Linked DNA regions of Homo sapiens: region 1 is linked to region 2. Evidence: fine-mapped expression QTL. A gene starts in region 2. The other region holds a variant in brackets. All regions are shown on one strand. Distances are between the middles of the regions. Region 1 has its middle 20 kb from the start of PRDM6. Region 2 holds the start of PPIC (peptidylprolyl isomerase C).

Region 1 (11,539 bases), 32 kb after region 2:
GATTATCAAATTGCACTGACTAGAAAGGTAATTTTCAATGAGGATAACTTTAGCTGTTTATTTCACAAAAATTTGCACATGTACTCAGATTTATCTTCCTCACCATCCAACAAGAAAACCTGGTCTTCTAGATTCCTAGTCTCTAACATGGAAAAAAATATGGAGCACGTGGAACAAAAATAGCTCGAATGTAGGATCACTTGGGGAATAACTTGGACTTACACAGTTACATGAAAAATCTCCAAAGTCATATTCGCCAGAATTACATCCAAGAACAACGTTTTATTTAGCAGCTAACTGAGATGAATAGCAGCTTCAGTAGCTCTAAGCAAAGGCTCTATTCATCAAATTTAAGGACACAGGCAAAGGAAATTGATTCATTTCTGGACCTGATTGAGTTTCCACAGTTAGATGCATTGGAGGGAGACACGACCTGAATGCTCCAATTCTGTGGTTAGTGCCTGCATGTAATCTGGTCTGGAGCACCCCACCCTTGTGTCCTCAAGTCCAGCCAGGCTCACCACATGGAAGACACTCTTATCGCCATGCTACTTTTGGGATAACCAATGAAATCTTTAACAAAACGTGTGATCTTTCAGCGAAAATACAACTTTCCCTAGGAGACGCCTGTATATATGAAATAGGAGATGCATGAAATATTGGAATATCTTATGAAGAGCAGGGCTCAGCTTGGTACCTTGCACTTTGTTGGTGCCCTGTCATGCTTGTTGACTCAAAGGCGTCTTGTTAAATGTATTGTTTGCCACTGTTACAGGATTTATTTTCACCTTCCTCCCCATAATCTTGAAAATCTAGTTGAGAGCCAGAAGTTTCTTCTCCCGTGGCATGTTCTCACCACCACTTCTATAGGTCTTTAGAGCCACTTGATCACTGGTTCAGTGTCTTAACCAAACTGTTAGAGTCTAAGCTCTGTGAAGGCACGGGACAAGTCTGTCTCATTCACACTCCGTAAGGCAAGGCCAATAGCGGTTGCTTAGAAAATACTTGTTAGAGGAGCATTCATCCACCCTGCAATCCAGGCTTGGTTCTGGTTTTCTATTCTCAACATCCAGGAGACTTGCTTGATGTTGGGATGCTAGGTTCCTTAGTTAAGTCATTAATTTTGGTGTTTAAGCCTTGTCCTTAAATTCAAAGGGCACTGGGTTTGAGCCACAATTTGACCAATTAGCAATGGGACCTCAGACAATTTACTTAAACTCTGTGAGCCTTAGTATCTTCATCTCTAAAAAGGAGGTGATAATAACACCTTCTTCACAAGATTTTGGTGATAATTAAATAAGATTTTTATATTTATATATGTGCCAGAACCATATACATAGTGTCTAGGACAGAATCTAGCATATCATAAGTACTCAATAATGTTAGATCTTTTCTGTTTACTACCCAAGTTACTGATGCATATAATTCCTTGGACATAGTAATAAAGGGCTGAAAACTATTTTTAATAGTCCAAAAAGACTAATAGAATTATTATATTTACTTACAATAATATTAACTAAAATGTTAAGTTATTTTGGGAAATGTATTAACATATCCCATGCTTGCAAGCAGTCTTTCTTGGTGCATACACATCTTAGATTAATTAAAAATAGGAAAATGAACTATTTATATATGTAACTTGGTATATAAAAACCCAGATGTGGAGTTCATGAGGTGTCCTTGGTTACTTAGGATTCCAAGAAGTCCGTTTTTAAATTTTTTATTTTATTTTAGATTCAGGGGTACATGTGCATGTTTGTTACATGGATGTGTTACATACTGGTGGTGATTGGGCTTCTGGGGTGCCCATTACCCAAATAGTGAACATTGTGCCCAACAGATAATTCAACCCTCACCCTCCTTGGTTATTTCCAACCACCTGTTTTGACCCTGGCTTCCAACTCCAGAATCGTGATGGATTTACAGAATTTTGGGGACTGACGTGTTTGCTACTGGACAATTGTAGTGTGTTTAGTAATAAAACAGAACCAGTATCATAACAATAACATTACATATTCTGAATGGACTGAACTATTATAATTTTGCCTGAAACTCATGACAACTGCATATATTTAGTCTGTGTTCAAGAATTTTATTGCTAATTACCAAATAGTACAAAATGAATAATTGTTACCAAAAAAAAAAAATTTGCCAGGTGCAGTAAGGCTTTGGTTATTAGATGGCAAGAATGTTACAGTGGCATGAAATGACTATGACATTATCAAGAAAAATGGATTTATATTTGAATAGTCTAGACTACTTGTAAAATCCTATAAAACCCTCAACTCTCTTGTATTTTACCCTAAAAAGTATTTCAAGAAATTATCAGCTAGCATACTTTGGAGAGATAGTATAGAGATATAAAGTCAGAGAAGAGTAACTACTTACCAGTCTCATAAATATGCTATAAAACTGTAATTATTTCATCAGACTTTACTTCTTTATAACCAAATTTCTTTGAGACTGCTTATGTTATTCAAGAAACAAAGAGAGAAAGAGAAACTTGATCTTTTGTTAGTATTTCCTAACTAAACATTAAGCCATTGCAACCATGGAGTAAGTCCTATTTATGTTTTCTTAAACTAAAGATGTTTTAATATCCCCCTGTATTTTTATCATTACTTTGTTGAAAATATTGTGAAAACCTGCTGTATTAGTCCATTTTCACACTACTGATAAAGACATACCTGAGACTGGGCAATTTACAAAAGAAAGAGGTTTATGGGACGTACAGTTTCACATGGCTGGGGAGGCCTCACAATCATGGTGGAAGGCAAGAAGGAGCAAGTCAAATCTTCCATGGATGGCAGCAGGCAAAGAGAGCTTGTGCAGAGGAACTCCTCTTTTTAAAACCATCAGATCTCACGAGACCCACTCACCATCACAAGAACAGCATGAGAAAGACCCACCCCCATAATTCAATCACCTCCCACTGGGTCCCTCCCAGAATACATGGGAATTGTGGGAGTTAAATTCAGGATGAGATTTGGGTGGGGACACAGCCAAACCATATCACCTGCTTCAAGGAGAACTTATACACCACAAATACTCATGTGTCACTTGTGCCTGTTGGGCATAGAAAATGACTCACATTTCTGTCACTCATATGTAAAGAATTTATGATGTATGTTTTAATCTTCCTTGCCTAAGATCACTTCTACAGTGAGACTTGACATTATAGATGAAATTTTTTAAATGCTGCCTTCTTGTCTGAATAAAAGTGATCTATTGCAATCCTTTGATTACAATATATAAATTAAAAATAGAAAGTTGTGGCTGGGTGTTGTGGCTCACGCCTGTGATCCCAGCACTTTGGGAGTCTGAGGCAGGAGGATTGCTTGAGTTTGGAAGTTCAAAACCAGCCTGGGCAACATAGCAAGACCCTGTTTCTACAAATATATATAAAACTAGCCAGGTGTGGTGGTGCACATCTGTAGTCCCACCTACTTGGGAGGCTGAGGCAGGAAGATCGCTTGAGCTCAGGAGTTCGAGGCTGCAGTAAGCCATGATTGGGCTACTGCACTCCAGCCTGGGTGACAGAGTGAGATCATGTCTCAAGAGAAAATGAACAAAATAGGCAGTTGTGAGTACACTTATCACAACTTGGATTTTGTAAAAGTATGAAAGGGAGCTTTCAGTTTTCTTACTGAGTATACATTTTAATGACTATTAGCTCAATAATGATAATATCTAGCATTTTATATCACTTTTACATGACATAATTATACCAAACAATATCTCATCTTTTTCCTACAATAATCATATGAAGCAAGTGGTACAAATATTATTAGTCTTGCTTTGCGATGAGGAAATTGAGACTTGGAATTTAAATTGCTTGCCTATAGTGAAGTGGCTAATAAGCACTAAAGTCAGGACTCAATGTCTGGTCCTCTTACTCCTAGTTCTGTAATTTTCCCCTTTTTAAAAAAGACTGAGATGAAATTCACATAACATAAAATTAACCATTGTAAAATGTACAATCCAGTGACATTTAGTATATTCACAATATTGTGCATTCATGACCTCTATCTAGCTCCAAAACATTTTCATCATCCCTAAAGAAAACTCCATACCCATTAAATAGTCATCTCCCCATCCCCTTTCTCTGGCCCCTGGTAATCACAAATCTGCTTTCTGTTTCTATGGTTTTGCCTTTTCTGGATATTTCATAAAAATGGAATTATATAATATGTGACCTTTTGCATCCGGATTCCTTTACTTAGCAGAAGGTTTTCAAGGCTCATCTACACGGTAGCATGTATCAGTACTTCATTTCTTTTTATGAGTGAGTAATATTCTATTTTATACATGTGTACATATCACACTTTCTTTGTCCAGTGATGAACATCTGGATTGTTTCTAGTTTTTGGTTATTGTCAACAGTGCTGCTATATACAAGTATTTGAGTGCCTGTTTTTTGTTCTTCTGGGTAGAGTCCTGGGGTAGAGTTTCTGAGTCATTTGGTAATTCTATCTTTAACTTTTTGAGGGACCACCAGCCTATATTCCATAGTAGCTACACCATTTTACATTCCCACCAGAAATGGATGAGGGTTCCAATTTCTCTAAGGCTCACCAACTTGTTACTTTGCATTTTGTGTGTTTAAAAAATTATAGCCATCCTAGTGCTTGTGAAGTTCTATCTCATTGCATTGTAGTTTTGATTTGCATTTCCCTGTTGACTAATGTTGATTATCTTCTCATGTGCTTGTTGGCCATGTGTGTATCTTCTTTAGGGAAAATGTCTATTTAAGCCCTTTGCTCATTTTTTATTGGGTTGCTGTATTTCTTTTTTTTTTTTTTTTAAAGAAATTATATTTTCTCCTCCTAAAATTCCACAGTGTGCCTTTGGAAAATTTACCTTCTTGCTCCATAACTGTATAGTTATGCAAGAAAAATGTAGTTATCACATTCTTGAGATTCTTTGATATTGTAGAGCTCTGTGTGTGTGTGTGTGTGTGTGTGCGCGCGCGCGCGCGCACGCGCGCGTGTGTGGTGTGGTGTGGAGTTATCTTTATCTATGAGTAGATATAGAAATTACCACAGGAGGTGAGTTCCATGGGCGGAATGGATAACCTAAGATGCAAAGGGTGAGATTATCCATTTGTCCATCATGGTGGTGCTGTCCTTAGGCTGGGGAAGTCGCTCAGATGACAAGCCAGGCTGAACGGCAGGGACAATGGCAGGTGTGAGAATGTGGGCGCTATTTAACTTGGGCCAGGAGGAAGAGTAGTTGACTGATGTGCTGCCCTGTGTCAGAGAATAACGTGGCACCTGCTTTGGAGTAAAAGGTAAGATGCAGGTGTCAGTGGGAGTGAGAGTAAGGGAGAAAGCCAGACACACTACTAGCTGGAACAGCCTCCTTGGCCAGAGAGTATGATCTTGGGCCAGACAATTCTCTAAGGAAGTCTTAATAATTTTTATGGTGTTTGTATTTTGAGTAACAATTTCCTTTTTGTCTGTCTTGGCACTGAGTACTGCTCTTTGTGAAAACACCAGTCTGTCTCAGGTATGCTAGGGAGAATACAGAAAAGGGTTCTGGGCAATATTTGGTAGTGGGGAGGCAGGATGCTCCCAGAGCCAAGTGAGGGGGTGGCTACAGTGGAAATAAGGATGAGAAGACACCAGAGGAAGGAAGAGATTTCCTCTGGGACCCTCCCTGACATCCTTTATGTTTGGCCCTCAGAAGGTTGGATGTTCTTTTGCAAATGTGACTGGACAATACTTTGAGATGGTAATTTACAGACTTTTCTCTTCCCATATTTCCCCTCTTTGCCTCCTTCCTTTCAATCAGATAGTTGGCAGTCATCCATAATCTCAGGAGAAGACAGCAAACTGGCCAAAAAGCAAAAGCAGATGGTAAGTTACTTGTTTTGTGCTCTAAATGCCTATATCTTTAGGGACACAATAGATTCTGGGTTTGAACAGAATGTTTGGGAGAGGGAGGAGCTTTCCTCTAAACGTGAAAAAGATTTTCCTGGGTCACGGTGGGGTAGAATTAAGGAGGTACATGGGTGTGAATGCAGACAGAAGTGGAGGTCCAAAAGGGGCCTTCACCATGCTTTCCAGTAGATCCTGGATGCAGTGAGGCCCCAGGGAGTAAACGGGTGTGTGGGAGGTGCAAGGACAAATGGTCCCCCCAAAACGTTCACGTTCTAATTCTCAGAACTGTGTTACCTTATGTGGCAAAAAGAGACTTTACAGATGTGATTACGTGAAAGATCTTGAGGTGGGGAAGTATCCTGGAATACCCAGATGGACCTGATGTGATTCCAACGCCCCTTATAGGAGGGAGGCTGGAGAGCAGAATCAGTGAAGGAGTCGTGATGATGCTGCCCTGCTGGCTTGAGGGGTTCCAGCCAAGGAGTGCAGGTGGCCTCTAGAGGGTGGGAAAAGCAAGTTAAACGCATTCTCCTCTAGAGCTTCCAGAAGGAACCAGCTCTACTGACACCTTAATTTTAGCCCATAGGACCCATAAAGGAAGTAATCGTTCTTGCACACTGGGCTTGGGGGCTGAAATTCCTACTCTCTACACACCAATGTTTTCACTTCTGCTTCAGGGGAGGGCATCCACTGTGGGCCACATGCTTTATACATGCTTGTTCTAGTTCATCTTCACAACCCAATGAGGTAATATCCCCATTATCAATTTAATTTATTCCTGAAAATGTGCCAGATAGAGCATTATTG[A/G]AATGGGCTTATTCAAAAATAAATTGCAATCAATTTGGTCCAATTATCACCAAACGTCTCTTTTTTCTTTTTTTTTTTTTTTTGATGGAGTCTCACTCTGTTGCCCAGGCTGGAGTGCAGTGGCATCATCTTGGCTCACTGCAGCCTCCGCCTCCTGGGTTCAAGTGATTCTCCTGTCTCAGCCTCCCGAGTAGCTGGGATTACAGGTGCTCACCACCATGCCTGGCTAATTTTTTTGTATTTTAGTAGAGACGGGGTTTCACCATGTTTGTCAGGCTGGTCTTAACTCCTGACCTCAAATGATCCGCCCGCCTCAGCCTCCCAAAGTGCTGGGATTGCAGGCATGAGCTATCGTGCCCAGCCACCACCAAACATCTTAAACATCTATGTAACAATCCACCAAGGATTTCCACATCATATTAAAGTATTCAGAACACCCATCATCTAATTATTAAATACATCAGTGAGTATTTTGTGGGTATTGTACTATATAGTATTAATACCAATTAAATTTTTCTTCTACACTGTAGAGAATTGTAATGCAGACTAACAACATGCATGTATGTTAAAGATACACAACAAATGCAAATAACACAAACAAAATGCAGTTCTCTAGGGAGAATGGCTGAGCTACAACTATGATGTTTTCTACTTCCTCTAGCTTAGGCTCCTGTGTGAAACATAAACTTTTTCTCTGTTGTGCCCATGAGAATTCCTTCAAACTTGGGCGACCATATAATTCACGGTCAAGTTGGCACAGTTTTTGTGAGTGAAAGGAGAGCAGTTAGTAATTACATTGCGGCTGAGTACAGTGGCTCACCTCTGTAATCCTAGCACTTGGGAGGCTGAGGTGAGAGGATAGGATAGCTTGAGGCCAGAAGTTTGAGACCAGCCTGAGCAACATAGCAAGACTCTTGTCTCTACAAGAAAGAAACAAAAGAAAACAAAAAAACTCACCGGGTGTGGTAGTGTGTGCCTGTAGTCCCAGCTACTCGGGAGGCTGAGGTGGGAGGATCGCTTGAGTCCAGGAGTTCTGGGCTATAGTGCACTTTGTTGATCGGGTATCCACACTAAGTTCGGCAACAATATGGTGACCTCCAAGGAGCAGGGGGCTCCCAAGTTGTCTAAGGAGGGGAGAAGCAGCCCAGTTGGGAAACAGAACAGGCCAAAACTCCCGCGCTGATCAGTAGTGGGATTGTGCCTGTGAATAACCATTTCACTCCAGCCTGGGCACCATAGCAAGACTGCATCTCTAAAATATAAAAAAAATAAAAATACTTAGCCAGATGTGGTGACATATGCTTGTTGTCCTTCCTAGCTACCGGGGAGGCTGAGGTGGGAGGATGGCTTGAGCCCACGTTATGAGGTTATGGTGCGCTATGGTCATGCCACTGTATTCTAGCCTGGGCGACAGAATGAGACCCTGTCTCTAAAAATTAATAATTATTGATTAATTAATAATTACCTTGGTATAATAGCTGAAACTGGAATTGTCTAGGGCAAAGTGGGATGTTAAGGAATTTGGAAGATTAATATGTCTTTATGCATTTTGCTCTCACCTTGTTTTTGCCAGATCCTAAACTGTGAAGTCTTCTCTTTCCTTTTCCCTAACTTTAAAAAATTTTACATTTTCTAAAATGCAATATATTCTTGTCATTTAAAAAAGCCATGTTTTGTTTTCACCACACACAAGAAAGGTTACTTGTGAGACAATGAAAGTGTTAATTAGCTTGATGGTGGTAATCACTTGACGAGGTATACATATATCTGATCATCACATTGTACACCTTAAATATATACAAGTTTTATTTGTCAATTATACCTCAATAAAACTAGGGGGGAAACCCCACATCTAGCATGAGCCAGATACCTTGTACATTACTTAATTTTCCTGACTTGGTGAAGGACCCGTCCAGATACTGTTGTGCAGTCTACCCTTGATAGTCACTAGACTGTGCACACCTTTGAGCAAGTGCTGCTCCTATTCATCTTGGTGACCCTGTATCTCAGAGTGCCAGGCACAGAGATGGTACTCAACCACATGTTTGTTGAATGAGGGAACACCATATGTGAGAAAGAGACAAATTTCACCTCCTTTACTAATTGGATGTGCTAATCTACTTTAGAATGTTTCCTTTTTCTCTCTAGATTGCCACATGGAATTACATATTTTTTCCTAATATTGCCTTGGTAACCTCTGCTGGTACCTGTTCTAATATGTTAGCATGTGGCTCATCCTTCTATCTAAAGCTGTGGCTACTCTGTGGACCTTATAACAAAGAGAGTGTGAACTTCACATTAAATGTGATTCGAAGCTTCTAGATTCCATGTACATATTCAGCTATAGAAGCACCTCCTAAACATGGATGGAAATGCCTTAACACATGTCAGATGAGATTACAGCTCAGATTCCATGCAGGATCAACACACTGCCCTGCTATCTGGTGAAACTGTGCTAGTTTTTATAGTAAGAAAATAGTCTAATGAAGCTCTTGATCCATGAAGAGTATAAGTGTGCTCTACGAAGAGAAATTGTGAGTAATTCATGACCCAAGTCTAGGATAAAATATGGATCATTAAAACCAGCATGCCTCAATCTGAGCTTTCAATACTTAGAACTTTGGAATCACAAATATTGGATCGTTATCATTTTTGAGCAAGCAAGCTTTAAGCATTTCTAATCCTAGTTTTTCAGGGGAATTGTTTATAGAAAACTCCCTCTTAACTTTGCTAGGTAATTGGATGTGCTAACCTACTTTAGAATGCTTCCCTCTTCTCTCTAGGCTACCATATGGAATTCTAAAGACACACATTCTCCTTTCTCAAATCTCTCATTTTGCCCACCATTAATTTAATTTTGATGGTAGAGGTCTACCCTGAATATTATATAATATGTATTGCATTTCAATACAGACAAAGAGGTGAGGATGAAGAATTTCAGCTCATTTTTTTTTAAATCTGAGGCTAAAATAAAAACAAGAAAATGTCAGAAGGACCATTAAAGACTTTCTTTCTGTCAAGCTCATAGATGCTTGAATAGCCTCTATCCGTCTCAAAGACCCTAGATGGGGAACAGTTATGTAGCATGTTTGTTGGTACTTCAGATGGAAAAGAAGGACACTCATTTAGGATGCCTTAAACAGCCCTGCCCCACCGAGGCTAAAATGTCTTTTAAGAAACAACTCTAGAGAATGGGACACCTTATTGTTTCTTCAAGAGCTGGCATCTTTCTATGCCTCACTTTTCTACTGTGCTACTATGAGGTGCGTCAACTTCTTGCTTTCTTCTTCCAAAGAACCTGCTCTTATGGACCCAGAGACTCTATCCCCAAATCACATTACCCAAGAGAAAAAATCTGATTGGTCAGTCAATCCCCGCCAGCACAGAGTTTGCCTCTAGGCAGAGATCTTAGACAAGGTCACCTAGTCATGTGTAGATAGTTGTGATTGGGTTAACCTCCCATTCTTGGTCAACTTAGCTGTGGCCAGTGTACTGGTTTTAAATGATACACTTATATGTTACACCTGCTGGTAACAAACTCCTCACAAGGGAGGCCATGGGAATGGTAGGCACACTGAAGTTTCCCAGCCCCTGGCATTCTGTTCCTTTGGATAAGTGAGAGGAGTTCTTTGATTTTTGTCACCACTCATTTCTTTCTTCATTAAACTTCCATCTGCCCTGGTCTACCATATTCCCCACTCCACTCCAATCCCATAACATCCAGTGGTGAAGCTTTCCCTTCTGAGTGTGTATATTTGTTCATGTTTGACTCAGAAATCTGGAAATTGAGTGTATTAAATAAATAAAAGTTTCCTCCATTCTTCCAGGAGCTGATGTAGCTTACGTTATTTCCAAACTCTGTATTCCATGTAGAATTCATGAAAGCCATGTAGTTCAAAATTAATTTGATTATTCTCTCAGGTTATCTGGGGCTTTGCTAGGACCAGCCAAGTTCCCATTTCTTTCGTTTGTGTCGATCAGATCACATAATGTTTTATACTTTCATTTCTTGGCCCCATGATTACACACCATGGAGCTCATTTAGAATGTCCTGGCGTTGCTCCTGTGTGAGATATGAGTGCATTCTGCGAGTCCACAGACGTGTGCTGGCATTTCTTATTAAAGAGAAAATGGACCACACACTTCTGGCTTGTGCTTACAAAGTCTGAATGGAAATTATTAGACCATAGGGAAGACTTGCAAGAGATAATGGTAATGTAGTAATTTTATCAGTTCATTCCATCTGAGAGGAAGAATCTCTTAATTTTCCTTCCTTCATTGGAAGAACTGTTTATGAACGTATAGTTCAATGACTCCAAAGAGCTGTGTGAGGGCTCCATGGGGGTCTCACGGGCAGAAACCCTTAGCTTCAGAAAGGACTTAGGAGTATAAACAGACACTAATGCAGAAATAATTCAATGTGTAGCTATTTATGACTGGCATCAGGAAAGACAGTGAGCCCTGTATACATAGGCAGGGTGCAAGAATGCACTCTCTTAAAACACAGAGGGCAGGTGGACTCAAACTCTCTAGGTTGCCAGCTCCACCCTCTAGCCCTGTCATAGTCTCTGAACTACAAGCCTCCTGTTGGCTTTGACTCTCTGGGTTTTGTCTGTGACAAACCTCCATGTGGTAGGAATTTGGGGTAAATGCATTCATTCATTTGTTCATTTATTTATGTGTACCCTTGTTCATTCATTCATTCACTAATGCACTCAATCATTCATTTATTGATGATTTAACAAGTATTTGATGAGAGCCTCCATGTGCCTAGTGGCATGTCAGGAACTGAGTGGTGTATGAGGGGTATATGAAAATAAGGGTAAGTCACAATTCCTGTATCCCTGTTC
Region 2 (8,000 bases):
TGGGGTGGGGCTACAAAGCTCCTACCCTCAAGGAGCTTCAGTCCAACAGAAAACACATATATGAATGCTATAATATAATGAGAAGTCAGATTTTATAAGACAAGTACAGATAAGGTGTCATGGTAAGGGGTGGTGATTATCTGTGGAGATAAGTGTGGGCTTCCTGGGAAAGGTGATATTGGATTCCATGCTAGACTTTGGGGTGAGCACCTCAGTCACTTGTTTTTTCCCTCAAGGCTGCCCTTGAAAGTCATTTGAAAATTACTCGGCATTGGAGATGGGAGGAGGTAGAGGAAGAGGGAGGAGGCACTTACACAGCCTGACCCAAACCCCTGTGGAATTAATCCTGATTCCATTTCCAAAGTAACTAGGGAACACACCCAGTACATGAGCTGCGATGTGGAAGAAACTGTTCTCAAATGCAGCTCCACCACTCAATGGCCATGGAAACTTCAGCAAGTTAATTAAACTCTGAACTCCCTTTCTTCATCTGTAAAATAAATGATGATTCCTTTCAGGTCTGCTCTGTCACAGTAGGATTAAGAAGATAAACACAAATAACACTAACAAGTGACTTCTGAAATCAGGGACTATGGACTATGTGCTTTACCTGCTGCTATGGTTTGGATATTTGATCCTAATGTTGGAGGTGGGGCCTAATGCGAGGTGTTTGAGTCATGGGTGTAGATCCCTCATGAATGGCTTGGTGCCATCTCAGTAGTGAATGGGTTCTCACTTTGTTAGTTCCCATGAGAACTGGTTTTAAAAGGAAGCTGGCACCACCCCCTTCAGCTTCCTCTCTCTCCACGTGATCTGCACCTGCCTGCTCCCTATCACCTTCCGCCGCCGTGACTGGAAGCAGCCTGAGGCTGTCACCAGATGCCCAGTCTTGAATCTTACAGCTCATAGCAGAGCCGTGAGCTAAATAAACCTTTTTTCTTCATAAATTGCCCAGCCTCAAGTATTCTTTTATAGCAACATAAATGGACTAAGACATCTGCTTTACCACATCTAATGTGCAAAGCCCTCCCAGGTAGGGATGATTTCTATCTCCATTTGACAAAGGAGGAAACTGAGCTGTGGACATTAGATAACTTGTCTAAGGCCATCTAGCCACAGCCTCCTGGCCACTACATGCTAATGTGCTTGCAAGCTGTAATATGTGTGCAGCTGGAAGGATGGTGGCATTATTTCATACACTCCCGATGCCGGATCCTGCACAGATCCCATGGCATTGGTTCAGAAATATAGGTCAGCAAATGTAATTCTGTGGATTTGGAGCCCAATGAGCCAGAGCCCCCACCTGAGCCTCTATGGCTGGGGCAGGAAGCTGCCAGGCTGGCCCAGCAGCAGGATCTGTGGACCAAGTTAGTGCCACTAATGGGCCATGTGGGCAGAATAGCACCTCACACCTCTCTTATTTACAGATTCCTATTTTTAAATGAAATCAGAGGTAAACAAAAACACTGCTGGGGAAAACAATACACTAGAGCAATGGCCAATTAATGTACTTGTCTGCACTCAGAGAAATTATTTTTAACGTCATTTTCCAATAGATTTAGTTGTCTTTACAAGTTCATGAAAAAGTAATTTAACAGAGCAGAATCTGTTTAAGACGCACCTACACAATCAGCTTTTAGAAAAACTTAATGACAAATTTGGTAGGGGGAAAAAAGACATGTTAAGTAACAATTCTGAGAGTAGGGTGCATGCAAACTCTCCCTCAGTGACAGTGTCACAGACAAGGGTTTAGGATGCTCAAACCCTTCCCCTCCTGCAGCCACCAGCTTCCTCCTCTCTTGGCTCCATCTTCCAGTGGTTCCCCGCCCACACTGCCTGCACATCAGAATCACCAAAAGCTTCTAAAAGATAGGATACTGAGCCCCACCCATACAGATTGTGATTGACTTGCTCTGGGGTGGGTCACTGCATCAGTAAGTTTAAGAAGTTTCCCAGGTGAAACCTGTTCCCAAATATTGCAGGGGACGTACTTACACTAAAAACATTTATTCATTGTTAATCTGATATTCACATCTAACTGGGCATCCTGTATTTTATTTGGCAATCCTATTCCCTCTCCCTCGCCCCCTTTCTAAACCGTCAGCAACTCCTGTTAGTTATATCTCCAAAATCTATTTCAAGTCCTTCCCTTGCTCCCCATTTCAATGATTACCACCCTAATCCAAGCCACCATCTGGACTCTGGCATGGTGCCCTGAATGACCTCCCATTTCACTCTCCACTGAGTGACCACATAAATTTCTCGAGTATATATTGAGATCATGCCATTCTTATGCTTAAAACCCTTCAGTGGCTCTGACTGCAGAATAACACTTCAAATTTTAAGAATTGCCTCAATACCCGCATGCCTACCTGCAGCCTCTAAGGCCCTGTGTGATTCCGCTGCTGCTCACCCCTCCAACCTCATCTCAAGTCACCTCTCATTCTGTGCTGAAGCCATTCCGTCCTCTCCACATCCTCTGAATGCAGGGAGGGCTTTCCTGTTTGAGGACCTATGCATATGCAGTTCCCTTTGCCTCCTTAGTCTTCTCTGCGCTGGTTTTTCTCATTTTTCAGCTATTTTTAAATGTCACCCAAAGTATATTACAGTTTATTTCCTCCAACATTTCATAATTGTGCGAATTTTATGTTTATGGCTTTATCCCAAGAGACCCCGTTCAGCTCTGTGGCCTTGCACAAACCATTTCCCAAAGTTAGACATGCCTACAAGATCAAGAGGCTGGGAGTAAGATCAGAGCTTCTCGAAACCATCAGGCTGTTTATCAGCCCCGCCCACAACGTGGCACGGCCTTTCTGCGACATCAGATGCTGAGCTGGACCTCCTCCTCCCCACCCCCTAGTCCTCCCCGTCCTCAGGTGGCGTCTGCGGTCGAGGATGTAAGCATTCTACTCGTTGATTAGTATCGTTTCCATTGACAAACCCCAGACTGATGAAGACCACTTTCAGCTGCAGCCCGCCCCCTCCAGCTTCAGCTTCGAAGACACTATTGCCAGTGGGTTTTCTAGAAGTGGTGATCATGGGCACCAAATTATCCCCTCCCTCTCCCTGCATTCTCCCATTATCGTCTACCCTTGGTTAAATACGCTGAAAAAAGAACTGAAGCGGAGTTAAGTACGAGGAAGCCTTAAAGACGCACTTTCTGGCAGCCCCCCGCCCCCTTTCCCCGCAGTGGAGGCTGCCCCAGGTCTACAGGTGCCGCCTTCGCCCGGCCTCGCGTAGCCCACAGCAGGGGCCGCCCGCCCGCCGAAGTTGAAGGCGCACCTCCCCTTCCCGGGAAGGACGACGGTTCCCCAAAAGAGGCGGAGGGTAGTCTCTCATCTGAACCAGGCGCTTTAATGCCTGCCTGAAGCCACCGCGGCCAGCGTGGAGACCACGCAGCGGGCGGGCGGCTGCAAGCCCTGGGCTCCGAGCGCCTCTCCTGTGCGGGTCCCGCCCCCCTCCCCGCATTCCTCTCGTTCTGCTCCCGAGCCCAGGCCACGCTGAAGGAAGTACTTGGGCAGTCTCTTTCCTGGAGAACGGGCCCGCCGGTTCCGGAAGCCTCTCCTACCCCCAGGCTGGTCACCTCGGACTACCGACCCGGGACAAGAAGTCCAAGCAGACTGCGGCGGAGGTAGGCTGGCCTCAGCCCAGCTCCCCCAGGGTCTCCCCCGGAGCGCCGGCCTCCCAGCACGCGAGCAGCCCCCTCCCACCCAGTCCCGCGGCCGCCTCCAGTCCCCCTGCGCCCGGGAAGCCTCCACCTCGCCCGCCCTGACACCGAGGTCCCAGTATCCAAAGCGCCCCCAGGGCCCCGCCCGCAACAGGGGAAGTTGCAGCCCGCCGCTCTCGGTCACCTTGGCCGTCACCGAGGGGCCTCGCTTGCGGAAGCCCTCGGCCCCCGAAGAAAACACAAGTGCGCCGAGCCCCACGCAAAGCACGAGAGGTAGCAGCAGCCGAGGACCCGGGCCCATGGTGAGCGGTGGCAGCGGCGCTACCGGCACGGGCGCTACCGGCACGGGCGCGACACAGGCTCTGGGACAGCTGACGGGACTGCCGGCCGGCTGCGCCTGCGCGCTCCCGGTTGCGGGGGATGGGGATCGGGCAGTCCGGGAAGGGCGGGGACCCGGGGCGCGTTCCTCCCAAGTTCAGACTCGCGACCCGAACTTGGGATTCGGAGGAGCGCGCCCACAGGGCGCAGCCAGGGCTCGACCGCCGCGCCTTAGGCGGGTGCGGAGGGCGCCAGGGACGGGAGGGAGCCCGGGTTGCCCAGGCGCGGAGCCGGGCGCAGCGGGCTAGGCTGGGAGCACCTCCAGGAATTTACCGCGTAGGCGCGGATTAAACTTGGACGGGAAGACCAGGACTCTCGGGCTTCCGCGTCCGCCCGGCAGCTAGCGCTCCGCGGGACTGGGAACTCTGCAGCCGGTCCCGGTGTGATTGCTGCCGCCTTGGGAGCAGCCTCCGCCGCGGCCGCCGAGTTCCAATGGCCCATTGGAACCTTTTGCTAGGTTTTGGACGCTTAGCAGAACTTTGACATCGCTGGAGGCGTGGAGCCCTGTTGCACTCGAATAATGGCCTCTCTTTGAGATGATTCACGTCTAGGGAACACTGGAAAATGCTGGATTCACAGTGCCCCTTTGCCTTCGAAAAACTTTTACATTGGCTTTAAGTACTTTATTTGGAGGATGATTCTGTGATCTTATCTACACTGTTCACAAGGCAGCACTTACACAGGCCCAGAACCATGGTCATGTAGGATTCTTTCCTGGGGAAACAAAGTAAATAAACTGACTTTTAGGTGTATCTGTAGGATGGATTTTTTACAAACTTAAGAATTATGTTTAGGAAGATTAATGACTGGGGAAGTAAGTTCTTATTATATTTTTAAATGGAAAATTCGGGTTGCAAAACCACAAATTCTGATCTCAACCGTGAAAATAAATATATCAAGGCACTTAAATATTGAAAGAGATGTACCACAACGTTTACAGTAGCTATAGATAGAATTGATAGCTATTGATAGACTTATGGATTTTTGAGGGTTTAAAAAAATTTTTTTTACAGTTTTCTGATTTCCCAGATGTTCTACAATGAGCATATAAGTATTTTATAACATGGAAAGGGTTATTTTAAAACTCATTGCTTTTTGAATTAGAATTTCAAAAGAACTTTTTTGTTTTAGAGTAACAGCCCTAAAATTAACTAAAAATTAGTGGTATTCGCACATAGGTGCCATTTTAAGGGGCTGGTGCCATTACTTTCAAGCCAAGATTTTCCTCGGATTAAGAGATGGAATTTCTAAATGTCAGATGGGATTCCTAGGTGTACCTAAGTGTAGATCTAAAATGACATTGGAACCATTAGAGATAAAAGGAGTAACCACTACTTCTTTGGGGTGAGAAAAAGGAGAAATGCAATTCTGAGCTATTTTTATGATTCAGTCCAGTGAAAGACCTAATGGCTTTCCTCTTCATCCCCACCCCCAATAAGGAAAGAGTCCCCCTTGTGTAGCAAGACAAGGGTATCTCTCAGAGCACTTACCCTACGAGGTGACTGTGAGGTGATTGTATATATTTATCTGTGTTCATTAATTGTTTTTGTCTGTCTGCTATCAGAAGTAAGCAGGGCCAGGGCAGGGATCAGGCCTATATTTATTCCCCTTTGATGACCCAGATCTAGTGCAATGCCTGATATATAGTGATTTCTCAATAACTATTTGTTGAATGAATGAATGTGTCCAACTACTTTTTATGCTACCACCATCTCACCCTCTAGGCAAAGAAATGAAATCTTTCCCAGCTCCCTAGAAACTCCTCTTATACCCTCTGCCAGTTACAAACACTTTTTTCTGCCCAAATTAACTGCAATCCTGACTTTTCTTGTACTATAGTTTAATTTTGTTTTAATTTTATTTGAATAGGGTATTACCGTATGTATTTCTTTTTGCTTAAATTTTTGTGAAATTCATCTATATTTTTGCATATAACTATTTTGGTGGCTAATACAAAGTAGGAAGCAAATTCATTTTTTTCATAAGAATATTCATTTATTTCAGTACAGTTTATTGAAAATTCTCCCCTTTAACTCACCGCTCCATACTGTTCTTCTGTCACAGAGCAAGTGCCCATGTATGCATAGGTGTGTTTGTGGGCACCCTATCTGTCCCATTGGCCTATTTGTCTGTCTTTGTGCCAATACTACATTGTCTTCATTAAAATAGCTTTATAATAACTCTTCATATTCAGTAATACATACCCTCTTAGCTTTGTTCAACAAATTCTTGGCTGTTCTTGAGCTTTTCCATGTCCATATAACTTGAGAATCAGCCTGTCAGTTTCCACACACTGAGATTTTGATGGGGATTGCACTGCATCTGTAGACCATTTAAGACTTGGCAAATTTACAATATTGAGTCTTCTAATTCATGAACATAGCATATTTAAGTCTTCTTTGGTTTCTCTCAATAAGATTTTATAGCTTTCTGCCCAGAGGTCTTACACGTATTTTATTAGTTTGATTTCTAAGTGTTTTTTTATGCTATTGTCATGTATTGTAGTAAAATTAATTTATATATTAACTTTGTATATACCAACCTTGTTAAACATATTCTAATAATTTATCTGTGAATTGTTTAGGATTTTCTCCATAGACAATTATGTCATCCATGAATAATGACAGTTTTATTTCTTCTTTTCTAATCTTTACATTTTGTATTTCTTTTTTGGCCTTTTTACACTGGCTGGGATCTGCAGTACAAAAGGAAGTGGCAACAGTGGGAGTCCTTGTATTGTAGACTGAATTATCCTCCAAAAAGATATATTGAAGTCCTAAACCTTGGTATCTGTGAATGTGACCTTATTTGGACTGCCTTTGCAGACGTAATCAAGTTAAGATGAAATCATACTGGAGTAGGGTTTGCCCTACTCTAATATGACTTGTGTCCTCATAAAAAGGGAACAGACACAGACACACGCACAGAGAACACCATATGAGGATGGAGGCAGAGATTGGAGTGCTGTATCTACAAGACAAGGGATGCCAAAGATTGCTGGCAACCCCCAGAAGCTAGGAAGAGGCAAGGAAGGATTTGCCCCTAGAGCCTTCAAAGACAGCATGGCCTTGCCAACACCTTGATCTCAGCTGCTAGTTTCCAGAACTGTGAGACAATGCATTTCTCTTGTTTGAAGTCACCCAGTTTGTGGCACTTTGTTACAGCAGCCCTAGGGGGCTCATACACCTTGTCTTGGTCCCAGTGTCAGAGGGAAAGCTTCAGTGTTTCACCATTAGGCATGATATTTGCTGAAGGTCCTTTTGGGGGATATCTTTTTTCAGATTCAGAAAATTCCTTTCTAGTCCTTGTTTGCTAAGAGTTTTTAGCATATATTTGATTTAAATTTTATTAACATCATCTATTGAAATCAATTGAAATAATTATGTGATTCTCTTACTCTGTTAATGTGATGAATTGCATTGATTTTCAAATCTTAACCCAAGCTTACATTCTGGAATGTGTCCAACATGGATTATCCTTTTTATATATTACTAGATGTGGTTTGGCAATATCAGTTTATTAACAAAGTTGCCAAAAACTGAATATAGACTATCTTCTGAAGTTCAGGAAGAAAAGAGTGGGTAAAATGTGGCTCTGGCTGTCCAGCTGAGACTGAGTTCGTCACCCACATGTCATTTCAGTGTTAGTGGGTAAATCTGCTAATCTTATTTTCAGGATATTTGCATCTAAATTCTTGAATGAGACTAGCCTGAAATTTTCCTTTATTGGAGTTTCCTCTCAGCTTTTGTATTAGAGTTGTTCTGGCCTCTTAATATGAGTTGGCAAATGGTAGCTGTTTTTCCCCTACTCTTAAAGGGTTTGTGTAAGATTACCATTTCTTCCTTGAATGTTTCTTAGAAGCCATCTGAGCCTGGAGTTTTCTTTATTGTAACATTCTAAATTATATATTTAACTTTTAAAATAGTTGGAGATTATTCAAATTCTCTATTCTGTT

Evidence for each region. PIP is the estimated chance that this variant, and not a neighbour inherited with it, causes the effect.
Region 1: its variant is fine-mapped to the expression of PPIC in tibial nerve (GTEx, PIP 0.98).

The regions. Positions count from the first base shown.
Region 1 is chr5:123,063,138-123,074,676 of GRCh38, forward strand. It overlaps the pseudogene RN7SL711P. Among named protein-coding and RNA genes, the nearest start is that of PRDM6, 20 kb to the right of the region's middle. The variant A/G (reference allele first, on the strand shown) is at 6,690.
Region 2 is chr5:123,032,658-123,040,657 of GRCh38, forward strand. It overlaps PPIC (peptidylprolyl isomerase C), which reads right to left and starts at 4,068. Exons shown (of 5, transcript NM_000943.5): 1 at 3,852-4,068. The coding sequence starts at 3,968. PPIC-AS1 (PPIC antisense RNA 1) reads left to right here and starts at 3,265. Exons shown (of 2, transcript XR_001742868.2): 1 at 3,265-3,631. RefSeq lists silencers at 2,764-2,936, 4,245-4,294.